Regions from separate parts of the Homo sapiens genome. Here region 2 is linked to region 1. Evidence: fine-mapped expression QTL. A gene starts in region 1. The other region holds a variant in brackets. All regions are shown on one strand. Distances are between the middles of the regions.

Region 1 (10,396 bases):
CCCCTGCACCCCATGTTCGTGTGGCCTCCGCACTTGCCCAGGGCCTCTGCCGTGTGACAGCCCCACCCCAGCCCCACGCTGCCCCAGGGTCTCCCTGGAGCGCCGTCTGTCCTCTGCCAGGCTGTACCTGGGTCCCGTGACTGAGCGGCACTGGGTGGAGACTCACTTCCTGGCTCTTCTCCCATCGCAGCACCTGAGCAGCCCCGTGACTGCGGCCTGAGGTCTGCCCCACGTGCGCTGTGGGCCAGGCAGAGCGCCAGGTGCACCCAGGATGCCTTCATCTTCACCGCCGCTCCAGAGCCAGGGACTGGTGACTAACCCTGTATCCACGAGATAGCAGGCTCAGTACGGTCAGGGACTTGTCTGAGGTCTCACATCCAGGGTTGTTCGCCGTCCCCGGGCTCAGTGTCTCGCTCCCCGCCTGCGGAGTGGAGTAGTTCTGAGATGTGTGCATGCCATCTCCCTTTCAATGGCGCCATCCTACAAGTGGCCTCAGCCAAGGTTCAGCCAGTAGGAGGCAGACCTGGAGAGATTTAGAGCCTGGATCCGGCACCACGATGGGGGCCTGGGAGCGAGGTCCAGGCAGGCAGGCCGTGGGAAGGGCAGGCTGGACCTGGGGCAGAGCTGAAGCTACCGCCCACAGCGGAATTTCTTCTCTGGAAAGCCTTTCCAGTGCTGAATCGGGCCCACCCGGATTGTCTAACATAGTCTTCCTCATTTAAAGTCCACTGTGATGGGTCTTTTGCACACCAACAGAACACCTCCACAGCCACATCTGGACCCATGTTGAATGAATTACCGGGGACTGTCACCTGGTCAAGGTGACATATAAAACTGACCCGCACAGTAGGTGCGAATGTCTTTCCAATTCTTTGCAGGAAACTGAGGCACAGCAATGCAGATAGCACAGCTGGTAAGGGAAGTGCCTGGGATGTGAACCCAGGAACTGTGCCCAGGAGTGGATACAAGCTTCCATCTTCGGACAGTGCCTCAGGCTCCCCCGAGATGTCCATGGGGTCAGGTGCCCTGACACCGGTCTCTGCACATGAAAGTGTTGAGTCTTCATGCTGCCTAAGTAGGTTTTGCTCTTGTTTTCAGTGAGGAGACTGAGGCCCAGGACATTGAATGACGCCCATGTTCATCCATATAGTGGTAAAAGAGGCAGAAGCCCCCGGGCCTATTTGATGATAGAGCCCAGGCCTTTAGGCCCTGCTAGAGCTGACCTCACGCACCCGCTCCGCGTGGGGCATGGAGACGTCTCTGGAGTAGAGGCGAGGCCTAGAACCAGGCAGGCTGTCTTTGCCATTTTTTTCCTTTCTGAATGTCCTAACTAGGGTATAGATTATCCCTACCCTCTGCATGGGCCTTGCACTTAATTTGCTTGCAATTAATTAAGGGATATTTTGTATTCCGTCAATAAAGGGAATCATTATTTTTTTAAAGGAACCCAGCTTTTAAAACCCCTTTTTGCTGATACATAACTTAATTTGTTCCTGCTACTGTAACAAAACACCAGAGACTGGGTCATTTATAGACAACAGGAGTTTATTTCTCACAGTTCTGGACGTGGGGAAGTCCAAGATCAACGTGCCAACAGGTTCAGTGTCTGGGGAGAGCCTGGTCTCTGCTCACAAGACAGCACCTTGAGCACTGTGCCCTCACTGGTAGGAGGGGTGAACAGCCCCCTGGCACTTCTACAAGGGCACTAAGCCCATCCCTCATGACCCACTAACCTCCTCAAGGCCCCACCTCTTACTGCTATCACGTTGGTGATGAACTTTCAGTCATCAAGGGGGATGCATTGAGGCCACTGTATATATCCCATGAAGTAGCTTACTCTTGTGTTCGGCTTGATTCTATTTACAAAGTGAACACACCCATGTGTCTGCAAATCAAATCAAGATGTAGTCACCGTTTTCATCACTCCCCAGAATTCCTTTGTCTTTTCTGAGACAATACCCCCAAAAATAACCACTGTTCTGATTCCTATTATTATAGGTTGGTTTGGCACATTCTTGAATTTCATAAAAATTGAATCATACTATATGTGCCCTTTTGTCTATGTTTTTCATGTTTTCAAGATTCATTGTTATTGAACATATCAGTTTCTTCCTTTTTATTACTGTATTATTAGTATTCTATTATTCTATGAAGATACAATACTTTATGAGTTCACCTGTTGATGGAATTTGGGTTGTTTCCAGTTGCGAAGTATTTGAACTGTTTTGAAGAAAGAATTCTTGTAAAAATCATTTTTTTTTTTTGAGACAGGGTCTTGCTCTGTCCACCCAGGCTAGAGTGCAGTGGTGGTGAACATGACTCATTACAGCCTTGACCTCCCAGCCTCAAGCGATCCTCCCACTTCAGCTTCCTAAGTAGCTGGGACTGGAGGTGGAGACTATCATGCTAGACTCCTGGGCTCAAGCAATCCTCCACCTTGGCCTCCTAAAGTGCTGGGGTTACAGGTGGGAGTCACCATGTCTGGCTGTAAAAGTCTTTTAAGGGACTTATGTTTTCACTTGCCTTGGGCAAACCTAAAAGTGGGATTGCTGAGAAATGGGCAAACAATTAATCAGAGTGGTTGCGCCATTTGCACTCTCATCGCCTTGTATAGTGGTTCCAGGGGCTCCACATTTTTACCCTTGCCATGTCGGTCTGCAGTTTCAGCCGTGCTTGGATGACGGTGGTGGCATCTCATTGTGAGTTTACTTTGGGTAACACTGAGCACTATTTCCTGTTCTTGTTGGCTATCAGTACATCTTTGGTGAAGTATTTACGTCTTTTGTTTATTTTTAAATAGACTTGTTATTGTTATTTACAGGCTTGTTATTGTTATATTGTTTTGTCCCTTTTGAAATAGACTTGTCTTGTTATTGTTCATTTGCAGGAGTTCTCTATTTACCAGGACTATGGTTTGAACGCGTTTTCCCCAAAGTTTATGTGTTGGAAACTTGACCCCCAATGCAGCAGTGTTGGAAGGTGCCTACTAGGTGGTGTCTGGGTCATGGGGGTATGACCCTCATGGATGGATAAATGCCATGACTGAGGCGGTGGGCTCCTTATAAAAGAATGAGTTTGGGTGAAACCTCGTCTCTACTAAAAATACAAAAATTAGCTGGGTGTGGTGGCACATACCTGTAATCCCAGCTACTCGGGAGGCTGAGGCAGAATAGCTTGAACCAGGGAGTCGGAGGTTGCAGTGAGCAGAGATCGCACCACTGCACTCCAGCCTGATGACAGAGCAAGACTCCGTCTCAAAAAAAAAAAAAAAAAAGATAAGTTTGGCCCATTTTGCATCCTCCCTCCCCACCTCCGCCTCCCACCTTCCGTCATGGGATGATGCAGCCCGAAGGTTCTTGCCAGATGTGGCTCCTTGATCTTGAACTTCCCAGCCTCCAGAACTGTGAGAAATAAATTTCTTTTCATTGTAAATCACCCATTCCCAGGTATTCTGTTACAGCAGCACAACGTGGATTAAGACAAGCCATTTGTGGGATATATGCATTGCCCCTGTGTTCTCCCAGTCTGTGGCTTGCCTTTTCATTTTCTTAATGATGTCATGAGATGAGTAGAAATATTAAATTTTGATAAGCCATTTAATCATTTTTAAATGGTCGGTCCATTTTCTGTCTTACCTGAAGATCCGTAAGATCTTTTCTTATATTTTATCCTAGCAACTTTATAATTTTTACACTTAAGTCTATGATCCATCTGAAATTCCTAAATTCTATTTTAATCCTAATAGTTTATTTGTAGATAATTTTGTTTTTTAACATATATAATCATATTGACTGTAAATAATCAGTTTTTCCTCCCTCAATCCTTACACTTTTTGTTTTTATGACCTACAACACTTGTTAGATGCTGCAGGACAATGCTGAATAGACTACGGAGAGTCAAAGATTTTCATACACCCTTATCAGTACAAGTAGATAAAAAGTACAAGTAGATAAAAAGTACAAGTAGATAAAAAAATCAGTAACAAATATGACCTAATTGACATCTGTAGAACTTTATGTCAGTGAAAGCATGTTCTCAGCAAGTGCTCATAGAACATTTACCAAAATAGACAATGTTGGGCCATGAAGCAAGTGTTTGAAAATCTTAAACGACAAAAATAAAACAGCTGATGTTTTAAGGCCCGGTGGAATTAAACTTTAGTTACAATAAAAAGAAAACCAGAAAGTCCCCATATATTTGAAAGGTGAACCTAACTTTTCTAAATATCCCATGGGTCAAAGAGGGAATCACAATGGAAAATCCCAACTCTTCCATATCCGGGCTTACGAAAATAGGGATGTATCTGTGAGGAACGCCTGAATAAAGCAGACAGACAGGATCTATTGGAGCTCCAAATCAGGGGATTTTCTGCCCAACCTGCCTGGAAGGCATTGCTCTGTGGCCCTACTCAGTGGTGTCCCTGGCGGCCCTGAGTTTAGGGGCTCAATTTCATCCATTGAGAAAATGAGTTGTTTATTCCATACACAGGACTATTTCCTCTTATCTCTACCTTTTTAGAAAACACTACAAGTATCAGGATTTTCTCATCGTATTTAGGTAAACAAGAACTAATTTAGTTGACCTTCTTACTTCTGTTGATCAAGACCATTGATCTGACCATTGATCTGTGCAGAAGATCTCTGAATAAGGTACCCAGAGAACCCTAGGAATAGAAACCTGAAATAAGTTTTCTAATCTTAAGGTCGCTGAGAGCAAATACCTTTTTCAATTGATTCATAAAAACAACTCAGTCTGATTTCATAAAATTAGCAAGTGTGAATAATAAACATTGAAAAAATATCACCTTACCTACGATTATTTTTTCCAGCCATTGTAGTCTTTCTATGTTGGCTATGATTTTTACATAGTCCAAAATTTTCAGGGAAATAACTTATTCCAGAGCACACAAGCCTTAAGGGCAGTTAATGTTTAGATTAATTTCGTGATACTTAGCATCCCAAATAGCTGTTTGTATTTCTTCTATAAAACAAGTGAAAGGGGCTAGAAATCTCTAAGAAGTCTGACAGTTCTAAAACACTGACTTAAAATTACTTCTATGATTCGGAGATTTGGGTAGGAGAAGGCATAGAAATAAATCTAGCATCTGCGAACACACTTGTTAAATGTGCTGACCAGGTAAAAGATAACATCCTTTAGTTATTTTGGTTAAAAATGTCTTTGTTTCTCGTTTTTTTTTTTCTTTAATAGTAATTATAACGATAATCTGTTTCCTTTTTAAAAGTATAAGACAAATAAATGCTCAAAGTAAACAATTCCAATAACTCAGAAGGGGCCATTCCCTGGAAAGGTCCCGGGAAAAACGAGCGCTTCCTGGCAAGAAGCAAGCTTCAAAAACTGCCTCGGAAACGTGGCTGAAGTCATCGCATTTCCAAACGCCCAAGCCTTGGCTGGTCCAGGGCAGCTGGCGCGGAAGACCCGGAACGCCCTGTGGGCAGGGCCAGCTGCGGACGGAGGGACGGGGGCTCAAGGGCGGGTCGGGTGGGGTCCCGACGCCCCCTCCTCGGCTGGGCGCACCCCGGGTGTCCGCAGGGAGGGGCGATGTTCTGGGGGGGGGAGCGTCTGCCCGACGCCCCCTCCCTCAGGTGAGCTCAGCCCGTGGGGGTCCGCAGAAAGGGCGGTGCTCTGGGAGAGGGTTAGGGTCTGCCCGGCGCACCCTCCCCAAGGGGCGCAGCTCTGAGCCGGGAGCAGGCTCTGCGGGGAGGATCCAGATGTTGGGGGCGGGGAGGGCACTCGGTCTGCCCAGCGACCCCTCCCGAAGTGAGCGCGGCCCGGGGTCCGCGGGGCAGGAGATGATCCGGGGGCGGGAGCCTCTGCCGCGCGCCCCCTCCCACGCGTGCGCAGCCTGGGCCGGGCGTTGGGCAGCGGGAGGGGGCGCGGGCGGCCACGTGGCCTCGAAGGAATGCGCGGGCGCGAGGGCAGGGCGCTGCCGAGAAACCGGCAGGCTCTGCGGCCAATGGGCGCCCGGAACGGTCTGGGCCCGCCAATGACAGCATGGTGGGTGGAGCAGGCCGTCCGGGCGGGAGGGGCTGGGCGCATCCCTGTAGCCGGCGGGCGCGCGATCCGGGACGGACGGGGTCGCGGGGGACGCGGGGGACGCGGGGGACGGCGGGGAACGGCGGGGGACGGCGGGGAACAGCGGGGGACGGCGGGGAACAGCGGGGGACGGCGGGGAACAGCAGGGGACTGCGGGTCGCGTCCTGGCCGCCGAGGTGAGTGCGGGCCCCGCGGACCGTGGGTCCCCTCGCGGGCTTCTGGTTTCCTTTGAGAGTTGCACTTCTGCCCGGCTCCCCCGAAATCGCTGGGTCCCACCCGGAGGTGGCTGCGCCCCCGACCCCCTGCGCAGATGTTTCAGGGAAGGGGCTGAGACCCCCTCCCCCCGAGCAGCTCCCCCTTCCGCGGCGCCCCCGGCCCCTCAGGATAACGGCGCGGGCCTGGGCGGGGGGAGCAGGGACTGGCAGCAGGGACCCCTGGCCCCAGGGGCAGGAGCGAACTCCGATCGGCGGAAGGAGCCCGAGGGGCGAGCTGGCTTCGCCTGGGGGGTCGTGCAGTAACTTAGATTTTCCGGTAAAGGAGAAGAATGCGGTCCGCCTCAGGATGCAGAGAAGGACCGGTGTAAGGAAAGCCGGCGTCTTTCCCCCGCACCCTACCTGTCCCCCTACCCCACCAGTTCCCCGCACCCCGTGTACCCCGCCTGTCCCTCAGCACCCCCTGTTCACTCTGCACTCCACCAGTTCCCCGCACCCCAGCTGTCCCCCCGCACCCCACCTGTTTACCCTGCACCCCAGCTGTCCCCCGCGCCGCAGCTGTCCCCCCCACACCCCACCTATTCCCCCGCACCCCGCCTGTCCCCCCGCACCCTACCTGTTTATTCTGCACCCCACCTGTCCCCTCGCACCCCACCTGTTCCCCCTGCACCCCACCTGTCTTCCCCACACCCCACCTGTTTACTCTGCACCCCAGCTGTCCCCCCACACCCCACCAGTTCCCCGCACCCCGTGTACCCCGCCTGTCCCTCAGCACCCCATGTTAACTCTGCACTCCACCAGTTCCCCGCACCCCACCTGTCCCCTCGCACCCCACCTGTCCTCCCCACACCCCACCTGTTTACTCTGCACCCCAGCTGTCCCCCCACACCCCACCTGTTCACCCGCACTCCACCTGTCCCCCCGCACTCCACCTGTCCCCCCGCACCCCACCTGTCCCCCCTGCACCTCACCTGTCCCCCCGCACCCCACCTGTCCCCCCGCACCCCACCTGTCCCCCCGCACTCCACCTGTCCCCCCGCACCCCACCTGTCCCCCCGCACCCCACCTGTCCCCCCGCACCCCACCTGTCCCCCGCACCCCACCTGTTCACCTGCACCCCACCTGTCCCCCCGCACCCCACCTGTCTCCCCGTACCCCACCTGTTCCCCCGCACCCCACCTGTCCTCGCACCCCACCTCTCTCCCTGAACCCCACCTGTCCCCTGCACCTCAACTGTCCTGCACCCCACCTGTCCCCCTGATCCCCACCTGTCCTCTGCACCTCACCTGTCCCCCTACACCTCACCTGTTTACCCTGCACCCCAGCTGTCCCTCGCACCCCAGCTGTCCCCCCCGTACTCCACCTGTTCCCCTGCACCCCACAGCCCGCTGGTGCCCAAGAAGCCAAGGTAGATTCTGAGGAAACTGCCCTAGGTCCACAGACGCCCTGCCCACCTGTCCCAGCCCCACTCCCCTTCCATGGGCCCCTGGGCACTGAAGGTGAGGTCTGAGTACCCCTCCCGACTGTGGCCAGTAGGTCATGTTCCCAGGCAGCAGTAGACGAACTTGCTGTTGTCTGATATTGATTCCAGTCACTAACTTTGGCTGCAAGTAAAAATTCTCATTGACTCAAGATGTAACGGGTTTTAATTCTTTTCTCTGGTTAACCATAACCTGAGTACGGACTGGTCAGTATTCTAGATTCTGTGCAGGAGTGACTTAATGTCCATATGGGTGGAATGCTGCAAGGAGGAACAATTTCACTGTTGCTGATTAATAATATGTTTTGAACACCTGCTTTATAGAAAATAATTTTTATTCGAAAAGAGAGATGATTACTGAGGTTTACACGTCATGTATTTTTAAAAACACACTTTGTCCCTGTCTGTCTCTCACAGCATTTATTTGCTGGCTTTAGCAGCCAACATCGGCAGTTACGGATGCATAACTCTTTATAGACAGATGAGACCTCCAGGATTTCTCAGCAGTAAGAAAAGTCATTTGTATAAGGTGCTATTTGTAATTCATTAGTTGTAGACAGTTGGGGGTGAAGTGAAGTTAAAAGTTATTCAGAATAGCTTTTTATGTTTTTAAAAGTTGATGCTTGACTTCCAGATGTAACCACATTTGTCTTCTGGGTGCTTTGGTGTGCTGCCTTTCCTCTGCAGTTTGTGTGTGCATACGTGTGCGTGTGTCTTTGTGTATGTGTTTGTGTTTGTATGCATGTGTGTGCGTTTGTGTGTGCGTGTGTTTGTGTGTGTGCTGTGTGTGTGTGCGCTTTGTGTGTGTGTGTGTGCGCGTGTGTGAGTTGTAGATAGAGGCGTTGGGTGGTGTGGAGGGTGTGGAGTTACAGACCTGGGTTGAGGTGGGGAAGCTTTTCCCTGGCCCTGTGAGTCCAGACTTCTCACGGGACTTGAGGGTGCTCACTTACGAAGTTGCTAGAAGGCGTTGTATGGGGAAGTGCTGCTTAAAACAAAGATGTTTGGCATAAATTAGAGCAAACTGGAAATGCGCTAATGACGGTTGTATTCTGTAAGCGATGTGAAAACGTCATAGTGAGATGTAAGAAAGCGCTGTTGTAGGCCCGTCATTGTTTACTGCACAGTGTGTGGCAGGAAGCATGCAAAGAACAGCTCGGATCTGGAGATGCTCAGAGAATCTGTGTTTCATGCGTGCGTTGCTTATAGTTTGCCTGGGTAGAAAGGTAAGTGGCGTGAAATAAGACAGAAGGGAAGCGTAGCTGTTAGTCATTCATGAGGGAGAACTTCAGCTCTCTCCCTTAACCAGGCTTTCTGGGAGTGTAATTTTGGAAGGTTCTGGGAGCTCTGCAGTGGAAAGGGGTGGGCCAGGCCCAGGGGCTGCCAAGGGTCTGAGAGGCAGGGAGAGCAGAGGCCGGTGACCAGCAGGGGTCCTTGCCTGGGTGGCAGACAGGGCCACAGCCCCAGGTCCGTCTAGGGAGGGGCAGGGTTACCTGTAAGGACAGGTGTGGCAAAGGGGCCCAGGGAGAATGCCCTGCCACCAGCCCCCACGCTGATACACACACACTTCTGCCACATCTGCCACCCTACTCTGCTTCAGCCTGTTCATAGTTGTCAGGTTTGGACATTGGTTTTGGTTCTGTTTGTTTGTTTTCTGTGAGTAGTTTTCCAAATTTTGATAAAAAAGTGATCTTTTTTTTTGAAATGGAGTATCACTCTGTTGCCCAGGCTGGAGTGCAGTGGAGAGATTCGGCTTGCTGCAGTCTTTGCTTCCCAGGTTCAAGCAATTCTCCTGCCTCTGCCTCCCAAGTAGCTGGGATTATAAGCACCCACCACCGTGCCCGGCTAATTTTTGTATTTTTAGTAGACGGGTTTTGCCATGTTGGCCAGGCTGGTCTTGAACTCCCGACCTCAAGTGATCCACCTGCCTCAGCCTCCCAAAGCGCTGGGATTACAGGCGTGAGCCACTGCATGCCCCGTCAAAATGATCATTTTAAATCGTGGATTTTTCCTTTCCTTCCATCATTGCCATTTCCTGCTTTTTGTTGTATCATTAGAGTAAAGCAGGCCTGCCAGTAGAAAGTGCTATATGGGGGTTGTTGGTATTTTATATTTTTGTTAAATGATGTGAAAAAGGTGTAAAATATTTTTAAAAATGTTTGGGTTCAAAGTTTTTCTCTTCCATGGGTCACTTCTGATAGGGGAAATAACTGTGTAAAGTAAAATATGGTATCCAGAGCTGTGACTGGTGCGGGGGCCCTTGTGAGGGAGCGATGGGGAAGCATGCAGGTTGTTAACAGGCACATGTAGAGATGCATGGCTGTCTGCGTAGAATAGGCCTGGCTGCATCAGCATTGGCTAGTTACCAATCTGGCCATTCTAGGTTCCAATATCTTAATGACCGTCAGTCCCTGGGGACTCACAGTGGGGGTTTAATGAAGAAAACAGAAGGAATGGTTGTGGTACCTCAACACTCTGCCTCCACTGATAGCTACAGACAGCCGAGGCCCTTTTCGGCACCAGGTGAGTCGGGGTGAGTCAGGCTCCTGCAAGTCGTAGGTGTTGCTTCCGTGCTGAGATCACGTTCTTTGTTTTGTTTTGTGCCCGTGGCTTGTTGTCCAGCTGTGGGGAACAGACCCTTACACTTGGATGT
Region 2 (10,396 bases), 33 kb after region 1:
CAAATGCTGAGGAGGGCGTGGGGCAGCTGCGTGGACACAGACGGCAAATGCTGAGGAGGGCCGGGTGCTGGCGGGTGGCTAGAGGGCGTGGGGCAGCCGCGTGGGAGGGCAGTTTGGTGGCTTCTTCAAACCTGAGCACACTCTTACCGTGTGACTTGCAGCCATGCCCCGGCGTATTTATTTAAATGAGTTGAAAACTTAATGTCCACTCAATACCTGCCCATATAGGTGTTGATAGCAGCTTTATTCATAATTGCCAGAACCCAGAAGCAGCCATGATGTCCTTCAGGAGGTGAATGGATGGATAAACTGGGGCCCATTCAGACAGTGGAACATTCAGTGCTAGGAAGAAATGAGCTGCCAAGCCGTGAAAAGACATGGAGGAGCCTTAAATGCATCTTACTGAGCGAGAGAAGCCAACCTGAAAAGGCTGCGCCCGGTGCGATTCCAACCACGTGACATTCTAGAAAACAAAATTATACAGTAACAAGCTCAGGGTTGCTAGGGGTTTGCGGGGGGGAGGGGTGACAGGCGGAGCACGGGATTTTTAGGGCCACGAAATTCCTTGATAATGGTGCATCCATGTCATTACACGCCTGTCCAAACCCATAGAAGGCACAGCACCAGGAGCGAGGCCTCACGCACACCGTGGGCTTTAGTTAGCGACGTACCTCAACATCATTACACGCCTGTCCAAACCCATAGAAGGCACAGCACCAGGAGCGAGGCCTCACGCACACCGTGGGCTTTAGTTAGCGACGTACCTCAGTGTTGGCTCCTCACACAGAAGGCACAGCACCAGGAGCGAGGCCTCACGCACACCGTGGGCTTTAGTTAGTGACATACCTCATTGTTGGCTCCTCACACAGAAGGCACAGCACCAGGAGCGAGGCCTAACACACACCGTGGGCTTTAGTTAGTGACGTACCTCAGTGTTGGCTTCTCAGTTGCAACAAGTGTTCCACTCTGGCAAAGGATGGGGGATAGTGTTGGGGGAGGCTCTCTTTGGGGGTGGGGAGTATATGAGAACTCTCTGTACCTTCCTCTCAATTTTCCTGTGAACCTAAAACTGCTCTAAAAAGTTGTATCTCTTAAAAGCAACCAAACTGGGGTGGGCACGTTGGCTCTTGCCTGTAATCCCAGCACTTTGGGAGGCCGAGGCAGGAGGATCACTTGAGTTCAGGAGTTTGAGACCAGCCTGGGCAACATAGTGCCACCTCGTCTCTATTAAAAATAATAAAACTTAGCCAGGCGTGGTGGCTCATGCCTGTAGTCCTGGCTGCTTGGGAGGCTGAGGTGGGAGGATTGCTTGAGCCCAGGAGGTCAAGGCTGCAGTAAGCTGCGATCGCAATACTGCACTCCAGCGCGGGCAACAGAGCATGACTCTGTCTCAAAAAAAAAAAAAATTAATAACCAAATGGAAATGAATCTCTGCTGCAGACCATATGAAGACAGACACAAGCAGAGGGGCCCTGTGGGTGTGGGGACGGCTCTCAGGCTCAGACAGGCCGTTAGCCGTCTTGATAGCTCGAGATTCAGGCCTGCGAGGTCCACTAGGCTCAGGTGTCTACAAAACTTAGAATTGATAAGAATTAAATAACAACAACAACTGAGGCTCTTGGTCACACTGGCCACCCCAAGTGCAATAGCCATGTGTGACTTGAGCTGTCCTGCGGGCCCTCTAGAACCTCTCCATCATCCTGGAGAGGACCGGGGAGCAGCACCGTTTCTGTCCTGAGGGCCCTCTAGAACCTCTCCATCATCCTGGAGAGGACCGGGGAGCAGCACCGTTTCTGTCCTGAGGGCCCTCTAGAACCTCTCCATCATCCTGGAGAGGACCGGGGAGCAGCACCGTTTCTGTCCTGAGGGCCCTCTAGAACCTCTCCATCATCCTGGAGAGGACCGGGGAGCAGCACCGTTTCTGTCCTGAGGGCCCTCTAGAACCTCTCCATCATCCTGGAGAGGACCGGGGAGCAGCACCGTTTCTGTCCTGAGGGCCCTCTAGAACCTCTCCATCATCCTGGAGAGAACCCGGGAGCAGCACCTTTTCTAGCAGCAGCATTTCGAAGATTGGATTGTCAGGTAACTTCCTCGCCCTTTTTTGCATATAGGCATAACTTAAAATGGGCATGGTCATATTATGTCATAATGATTGGAAACGTAATGTTTCTTAAAGTTTTCTATTTCATAACTTGTTTTAGAAATGTGTGCCTTAATTGATGAGCCAATTACCTGCATACTCACAAGTGTAAAAAGTCAGGTTGGTAAGAAGTCAGTGCCACCAAGGCAGCCCCAATGGCCCTGCTGTGACGGAAACAGTCTGAATCCTGAGGCTTAAATGGCTGCTGCTGTCGGTCAGCATTAGGGGTGTCGTGTCAAGCTGCCGGTGACCCACAAGGGCTGGCCCCTGAATGCAGCAGAGCCTGCAGTTTTCCTGGGAAGTGCAGCTGTGGCCAGAGGGCAGCCTGTCCTGGGCAGGCCAGAGGAGAGGGGCAGGGGAAGAATGGTCCCCAGGTTAGATTTGGGCCGGGCGCTGGCGGGTGGTTAGATTTGGGCCGGGCACTGGCGGGTGGTTAGATTTGGGCTGGATGCCTGTGGGTCGGCACGGGCTGCACTGCCGTCTGTGTTTCCTCCTCCGTGTCATGGCCTTCATGGGTGACTCTCAGAACCTGCCGTCCTGAGTGGGCAGGAGGGGCACAGAGCCTCTCCCTAGGTGCAGCCCTGCCCAGGCCGCCCTTCCCTGCTTCCCTGCCAGCTGCCTACCCAGAGCGCCGGGCCCTTCCCGCCCACCTCCTGGGCTCCACAGGGACCAACGGGCGGAGAACACTGGGCCATGGTGTGTCCAGCGAATGACGGCTACACTGCAGATTCCCCAACAGCTTTTTGAAAGATCCATGTCGTCTCAAACTACAACACGTTGTATCTCCTGAGATGCTTTCAGCAGCCCTTGAGCATCTTTTCTAGTTTGCAAATTGTAGTTTTTCTCATCAGTGTTCTCCTTCAGCTGAATGGCTGGGTTCTGAAGCTGGGGTTTTGAGAAGCGGGAATTCCTTCTGTGGCTGCAGCAGGAGTGTTGTGGGAACCGACCCAGCCCAGCTTGCCTGGCTCCCGCCAGGGCCCTGAGGATGGCACAGGACCTTTTGTGTTGGAAAGGGCTTGGCCGAGCTTGCGGGGGAGCCTCCTGGGTTGCAGGCCGGAAGTCCCAGGTCAGGGTGCTGGCAGGCTGTGTGTGCTCCCCGGGAATGTAGGTCACAGCCTTCCTTGCCTCTTCCAGCGCCCGCCGGCTGTGGGCACTCCCGGGAGTTCCTGCAGCTGCACTGCCAGGTGGCTCCTCGTCCCTGTGCTGGCCTCTGCTGTCATGAGGACACTGCCACACTGGGTTAGCCGAGCCTGCTCTAGCACAGCCTCCTGTAAACCAATTGCACCTGCAGTCACCTGTTTGCAGACGAGCTCACCAGCAGACTGGGGGTGAGGATTTCAGCACAGGGATTTAGGGGACACAATTGAACCTGTCAGGGCTGGTGTCAGAACTAAACTTAGGACCCCAAATGCTGGGATTTTTAAAGGCATTCTGCATTGCACTTCACTAAGGGACCTGGGGAGCTCGGGTGGGGTCTGTGATGCCCAGGATCCCCCAGGGCCCAGGGCAGTGTCTGGGATGGACATGCTCAGCACACACCACCTTGAACGCCCGGCCCCATGCTCACCTCAGAGGGCGGCGCAGCCTCACCATCGATGGAGGCCCCCTTGGAGGTGGGGGTCAGAGGAGCAGCCCAGCTCCAGGCGGCCTCGCCCTCTGTCCTGGGCGCCCGCCGTGGGCACAGCTGTGGGCACCCATGCAGGCAGGGGTGCAGCCTCAGGTGGTTACATTGAGCACAACTTCTTTGAGTTCTTGTAGAAAGGCTATTTTTTTCTTACTGGAACTGAATTCTGAGAGGAATTTGTAACACACATCATTCTGCAGAGTCTATATAACTTGAAAGTCTTTCCCTGCAGTGTTTGCAGAGGATGGAGGGCAGCTCCGCCAGTGTCTGCCAGTCTTTCAATGACAGCAGAGAGCTCTTGAATTCCAAGCCCCAAGCCCCTTCCAAGCCCCTCCAAGTCTAAACTAACAAGATTTAAACTTTTGGAGGAATTTCTTGATTGCTTTGATTTCCCTTGTATAGTAGAATTCTACTTAAATTTTACTAGGGGAAAAAGTGAGTTATTTTGGCAAAAAACAGTTTGAAGCTTGCTCATCTGCTCGTCATTCTCTCATTCATTCGCTCACATGATGTGCGTGTCACACATTGCCGCCAACCAGGTTTCCCACTGCACCTTGCTGGGCGGTGAGCAGAGGTGCCGGCTCCGAGAACGCATGCGGTTCTTCTCAGGGTCATACCTGTACCTGGCACACGGGACATGCACTGTCCCAGGTAATCCCACCGGTCTCCCGGGGCTGGTGTCACAGCCCAGGAGGTGGCGTATGGGGAGGGAGTGGAGGGGCCTCGGTGTCTCCTCAGGGCTGTTTCCTGCACACACGGGCTCCTGTTCACGGCCTTCCTTCCTGAAGACTTTAAAGAGAATT[C/G]CTTCTTCCTGTATGGGGTACAGTGTGGGTTCCGGTCCCAACAGCTCATGTTTCTCCCCTTGCAGATATTTGAGAGCCTATTTTGTACCAGACATTGTCAAGCTTTTTTAAAAAACAATATTTATAGACTCATGTCTAGGTGTATTTTATCTAATTGTTTGAGTTCAGCGGTAGTAAACTATAATTTCCAAAAAAGAGAGTTGACAATATAAAAATCTAGTGTGATTGTGTCACCGTCTGGATGAATCTGAACATGTGCCTGGCAGTGACTTTTTTTGGGGTGGTCAGAACAGAAACTTTTTTTGGGGTGGGGGACAAGGTGTTGCTCTGTCCCCCAGGCTGCAGTGCGGTGGCGCAATCTCAGCTCACTGCAACTTCCGCTTACTGGGTTCAGGTGATCCTCCCACCTCAGCCTTCGGAGTAGGTGGGACCACAGGTCCACGCCTTCACCCCAGGCTAATTTTTGTACCTTTTTTTTTTTTTAAGAGACGGGGTTTCACTATGTTGTCCAGGCTGGTCTCAAATTCCTGGGCTCAAGCAATTAGTCCTCCTTGGCCTTTGAAAGTGCTGGGATTACACGTGTGAGCCCCTGCGCCCAGCAATACATAAACATTTTCACTGATCATTTTCGTCACGGCATTTAGTCGGCATTGTTTCCGCAGCACGTTTATTTGGCAAACATGATTTTTTCTCCCCAAACGTGAATTCTGTGGAAATGACAGTTGCATTTGGAAAATATTCCAGAAAACAGTTTTTTTGTTTGTTTAACTTTTTACTTTAAAAGGTATTCACCAGTTCATTTCCATAAACTGACTACTTAATGATATGGCAAAAAAAAAAACCCCTTCTGAAATAGGTTTTGTTTACGGTCGCTTGGGAGACAGTGAGGACTGGTTTGAAAGTACATAGTTAACAAGGCTCAAACTCTGGAAATTAGCGGTTCTGTCCATTCCAGCTCTCCCCCTGCTTCGATTGTTTCATTTGATTAGGCTTAAATTCAAAACTTTGAATTTAGAGAAGTCTTTGACCCTCTAGGAAGTGGGTGAGGCTTTGGTATCTGGGCAGAGCAGAGTTCACCATCCAGAAGGACAGCAACACACACTCCTATCAGACGTATGTTTTAAAAATAACACATTTCTGAATCCTTTTTCTTGATTCAATTTTAGTATTTGTCATTCTCATACTTGTAAAACTCGTGAGTGTTGGTGGAAGCAGTTCCAGAAAGCTCGTGGGGTCCCCAGGTGTCATGGTCAGCTGGGGGTCTCATCCCCACCGTCCTTGCAGTGGTAGCTGGATCCAGTTCACGCTGTCGTGGGCCTGGGCCCCTCTGTGTATTTGTGGTGACCTAAAAATCTGTTTCCTTCAAAAGGCACTCCTAGAATGTATGACTAGTTTAGGAGATTCAAAGGAAAATGAAACACCTCAAATTTAAAGGTTGTTTTTAGACCGCTAGAGTTCCCCGGGAGGCGACTTCCCCAGGAGGCTCGGCAGAGAGCGCCTGGAGACTGCGTGGAGTGTAAGTGGGTTGTGTGTCTGTGGGTTGCTCCCTAGCAGGGCTCCCCCTCAGCCCCCTCCGGAGCTGCCTGCAGCCGAGCTGGGCCGTCCTGCTTGGGTGCATCTCCCTGGCCCACGGGGGATTGTCTGTGTTGGAGGGGCTTGGTTTGGGCTGACCCAGGCTCTGTCCCGAGGTGCCACCTGCTTCTGTGGATTGCCGGGCATGGCAGCAGGAGGTTTCCTCAGGAACGTGTGCTGGGAAGAAATCCCAGCCCTTGGGAAAGGCTGGCAGGGGCTGGGTTCCTCTCGCTCCTGGGTGTGCCGGGTGGTGTTGTCCCAGCACATGGGTCTCCTCTGGAAAAAGGAGAAGCACCTGTCTGCTCTGATGGTGGCACACAGTCCTAGCACGCCGTCTCTGCAAATGATGCACACGGCAGGCTGCGCCATCAGCCGTAACCCCGGTCCAAGGAGACCTGTGACTCGCCTCCTGCAAAATGTTTCTTATCAAGCACTTACTTGGAACAGTTATTAACCATGCTCTTTAATAATTATGGAGGTTTGTATTTTAAGCTATATATCGGTGTTCATATTTGACACTGATTTTCTAACCATCAGAGATATTTAATTAAAATTGTAAATAAGAGAGGCAAAATGAAAATAAAAGGAGAAGAATTCTAGGGAGAGATGCAAGGTGTCAGAAGTTATTTCTAAAAGTAAAGTGGATGATACTGAATTCTCTTCCAGACCATCAGCCCAGCCGGGTGATGTTCATCTGCTGGGTGCACAGATTTAAAATGTGAAAAGCTCTTTTTTCCCCTTACTTTCTCTTGTTTTCTTTTCTTTTTTTTTTTTTTTGAGACAGAGTTTTGCCCTGTCACCCAGGCTGGAGTGCAATGGTGCAATCTCGGTTCACTGCAACCTCCGCCTCTCGGGTTCAAGCCATTCTCCTGCCCCACCTTCCTGAGAAGCTGGGATTACAGGTGCCCGCCAACACGCCTGGCTAATTTTTTTATTTTTAGTAGAGATGGGGTTTCACCATGTTGGCCAGGCTGGTCTCAAGCTTCTTACCTTGTGATCTGCCCACCTTGGCCTCCCAAAGTGCTGGGATTACAGATGTGAGCTACCACCCCCAGCCTCTTGTTTCTTCTCTGTGAGTTGTAGATCCTATTAAAAGAAAATAAAAACCAGTGACTCAGAATTCTAATGATACTTATTTTGCCCCTTAAAAAGGTTAACTACAAGCGCAGTACAGCACAGAGGAACTTAGTCAGTGTCTCTGGCTAACATAGATCGATCGATCTATCTATCTATCTATCTATCTATCTATCTATCTATCTATCTATCTCTCCTTGATGTGGTTTTGGTTTTTCTTTTTAGAAAATGAAATGAAATATGATACCAATAATAATGAAGAGGAAGAGGGAGAACAGTTCGATTTTGACAGTGGAGATGAAATCCCAGAAGCGGACAGACAGGCCCCATCCGCCCCTGAGACAGGAGGTGCTGGAGCCAGTGAAGCCCCTGCACCCACAGGTGAGTTTCCAGGAGGGTCCCCAGGTGAGTCCCCAGGTGGGTCCCCAGGTGAGTCCCCAGGTGGGTCCCCATGTGAGTCACCAGGTGAGTTCCCAGGTGAGTCCCCAGGTGAGTCCCCAGGTGGGTCCCCAGGTGAGTCCCCTGGGGGGTTCCCAGGTGAGTCCGCAGATCACCGGCATCAGGGTCACCTGTGCTCAGCCATCGGACTCGCCGATTTTCTCCCCATTCTTACGGCCCAATTGGAACATTGTAGGGAAAGGATGATTTCTAGGAGCCAGAGAGTTATGATTTCTTCATGATGTACCTGAAAGGACTTAATTTAAGATTGGCTAAGTTTCTTCTCTTTGTACTATTTTCCATAATTTTCAACCTTTTCACTCTACCTTTGTATTTTGCAAAGAAAAAGTATTGCTATTTCCCAATAAGAATGACCTCATCATTGTATCACTAGATTAAAAGAAATATTCAGAACATGTGGGATGAAGTAGCTGTAGAGGTTTCGCTTTCTAAGTTTGGAGGTGGGTTGGGTGCTTTCATTCGCTGACCAGAGGGACTGCTCAGGTCAGGCAGTGGTGGGAGAGCCTGCACAGTGTTTCTTCCTGTGTAGCACCCGCCTCTCAGCTCGCACGGTGTTTCTTCAGGTGTAGTACCAGCCTCTCAGTTTGGCAGCGTTCCTCTTGGCTCGCACGGTGTTTCTTCAGGTGTAGTACCAGCCTGTCAGTTTGCACAGTGTTTCTCTCTGCTTGCACGGCATTTCTTTGGGTGCAGCACCAGCCTCTCGGTTGTTTGCATGCCGTTTCTTTGTGCATAGCACCCACCTCTTGGCTTGTACCGTGTTTCTTTGTGCGTAGCACCAGCCTCTCGGTTCTTTGCATGGTTTCTTTGTGCGTAGCGCCAGCCTCTCGGTTGTTTGCCCGGTGTTTCTTTGGCCATAGCACCTGCCTCTTGGTTGTTTGCACGGTGTTTCTTTGTGCATAGTACCCGCCTCTCTGCTTGCACGGTGTTTCTTTGTGCGCAGCACGCGCCTCTCTGCTTACACGGTGTTTCTTTGTGCACAGCACCAGCCTCTCGGTTGTTTGCCCGGTGTTTCTTTGGCCATAGCACCTGCCTCTCGGTTGTTTGCCCGGTGTTTCTTTGGCCATAGCACCTGCCTCTTGGTTGTTTGCATGGTGTTTCTTTGTGTGCAGCACGCGCCTCTCTGCTTACACGGTGTTTCTTTGTGCATAGCACCAGCCTCTCGGTTGTTTGCCCGGTGTTTCTTTGGCCATAGCACCTGCCTCTCGGTTGTTTGCACGGTGTTTCTTTGTGCGCAGCACCCGCCTCTCTGCTTACATGGTGTTTCTTTGTGCATAGCACCAGCCTCTCGGTTGTTTGCACAGTGTTTCTTTGGCCATAGCATCAGCCTCTCGGTTGTTTGCATGGCGTTTCTTTGTGCACAGCACCCGCCTCTCAGCTTGCATGGTGTTTCTTTGTGTGTAGCACCAGACTCTTGGTGAGGGGAGCAGCTGCCCTCCTCCGGCAGCTTCTCCCTGACTTAGCTCATGGGATGAGCCTCCTGTAGTGACCAGGCTGCATCCGTCTCACCTGTGCCCAGAGGTGATGCTGGGTTCCCCATGTGTGAGTGCTCCCTCCGAGGCCACCTGATGACCTGGGAACGTCTAGGGGTCCTGGCATGGGATGATGGTGGGAGCTCATACCTGCTTCCCACTTGCGCTCCAGGAGGGCATGCCTGCCATGCCCTTGGTGATGTGTCTGCTGACAAGTCCTTTCTGCATCCCCAGGAGGTGAGGATGGAGCTGGAGCAGAAACCACCCCAGTGGCAGAGCCTACTAAGCTGGTGCTCCCGATGAAAGTCAACCCATATTCTGTCATCGACATCACGCCATTCCAGGAGGACCAGCCGCCCACCCCCGTGCCCAGCGCTGAGGAGGAGAATGTGGGTCTCCATGTGCCCTGCGGGTACTTGGTGCCTGTACCCTGCGGCTATGCGGTGCCCTCCAACCTGCCCCTCCTGCTGCCCGCCTACTCCAGCCCGGTCATCATCTGCGCCACGTCCCTGGACGAAGAAGGTACTGCTACCCTCCTCTCCACGCCCCCGAAGTGGCCTGTGGTTCCCTCCTCTCCACGCCCCCGAAGTGGCCTGTGGTTCCCTCCTCTGCATGCCCCGGATGTGGCCTGTGGTTCCGTAGAGTCCGGGCCTGACCTTCCCCCCTCCTCCTCCTCTCCATGCCCCCGATGTGGCCTGTGGTTCCGTAGAGTCCGGGCCTAACCTTCCCCCCTCCTCCTCCTCTCCATGCCCCCGATGTGGCCTGTGGTTCCGTAGAGTCTGGGCCTGACCTTCCCTCCTCCTCCTCTCCATGCCCCTGATGTGGCCTGTGGTTCCGTAGAGTCCGGGCCTGACCTTCCCCCTGCCCCCACCCAGGTCATTAGATGTTTGTTTACAGAGTTGGAAAATGAGCCCCTAGTTCATCTTCAGTGACAGGAACACCACTGAGGGAAGGCCAGGGTGTATGGTTTGGAAATTTTTGAAACAACGTCTGGTGCCGAATGTGTTGCCCCCTCATGTCTGGGGTGCCTTGAACTTCACCCCGATCTCTGATTCCCCCACCAGCTGCTCACGGGAGTGTGTGCAGTTTTTGGCCTGTATGACTTACTGTGCTAGATGACAGTTACCGTTATGTATGTCCCGTGTCACCTGCTTGTCTATAGACTCAGACTCCCTGGGGTCAAAGCGTGTGTCTCGCTGTCTTCATTCCAGAGGATGGAGGGGTGGTGGGGGTGGGAGAATTGCCTCAGGGGCTC

Evidence for each region. PIP is the estimated chance that this variant, and not a neighbour inherited with it, causes the effect.
Region 2: its variant is fine-mapped to the expression of ARHGEF10 in whole blood (TOPMed, PIP above 0.99).

Annotation. Positions count from the first base shown.
Region 1 is chr8:1,817,884-1,828,279 of GRCh38, forward strand. ARHGEF10 (Rho guanine nucleotide exchange factor 10) reads left to right here and starts at 6,043. Exons shown (of 29, transcript NM_014629.4): 1 at 6,043-6,230.
Region 2 is chr8:1,850,522-1,860,917 of GRCh38, forward strand. It overlaps ARHGEF10 (Rho guanine nucleotide exchange factor 10), which reads left to right. Exons shown (of 29, transcript NM_014629.4): 3 at 7,439-7,594; 4 at 9,376-9,663. Among named protein-coding and RNA genes, the nearest start is that of ARHGEF10, 32 kb to the left of the region's middle. The variant C/G (reference allele first, on the strand shown) is at 4,568.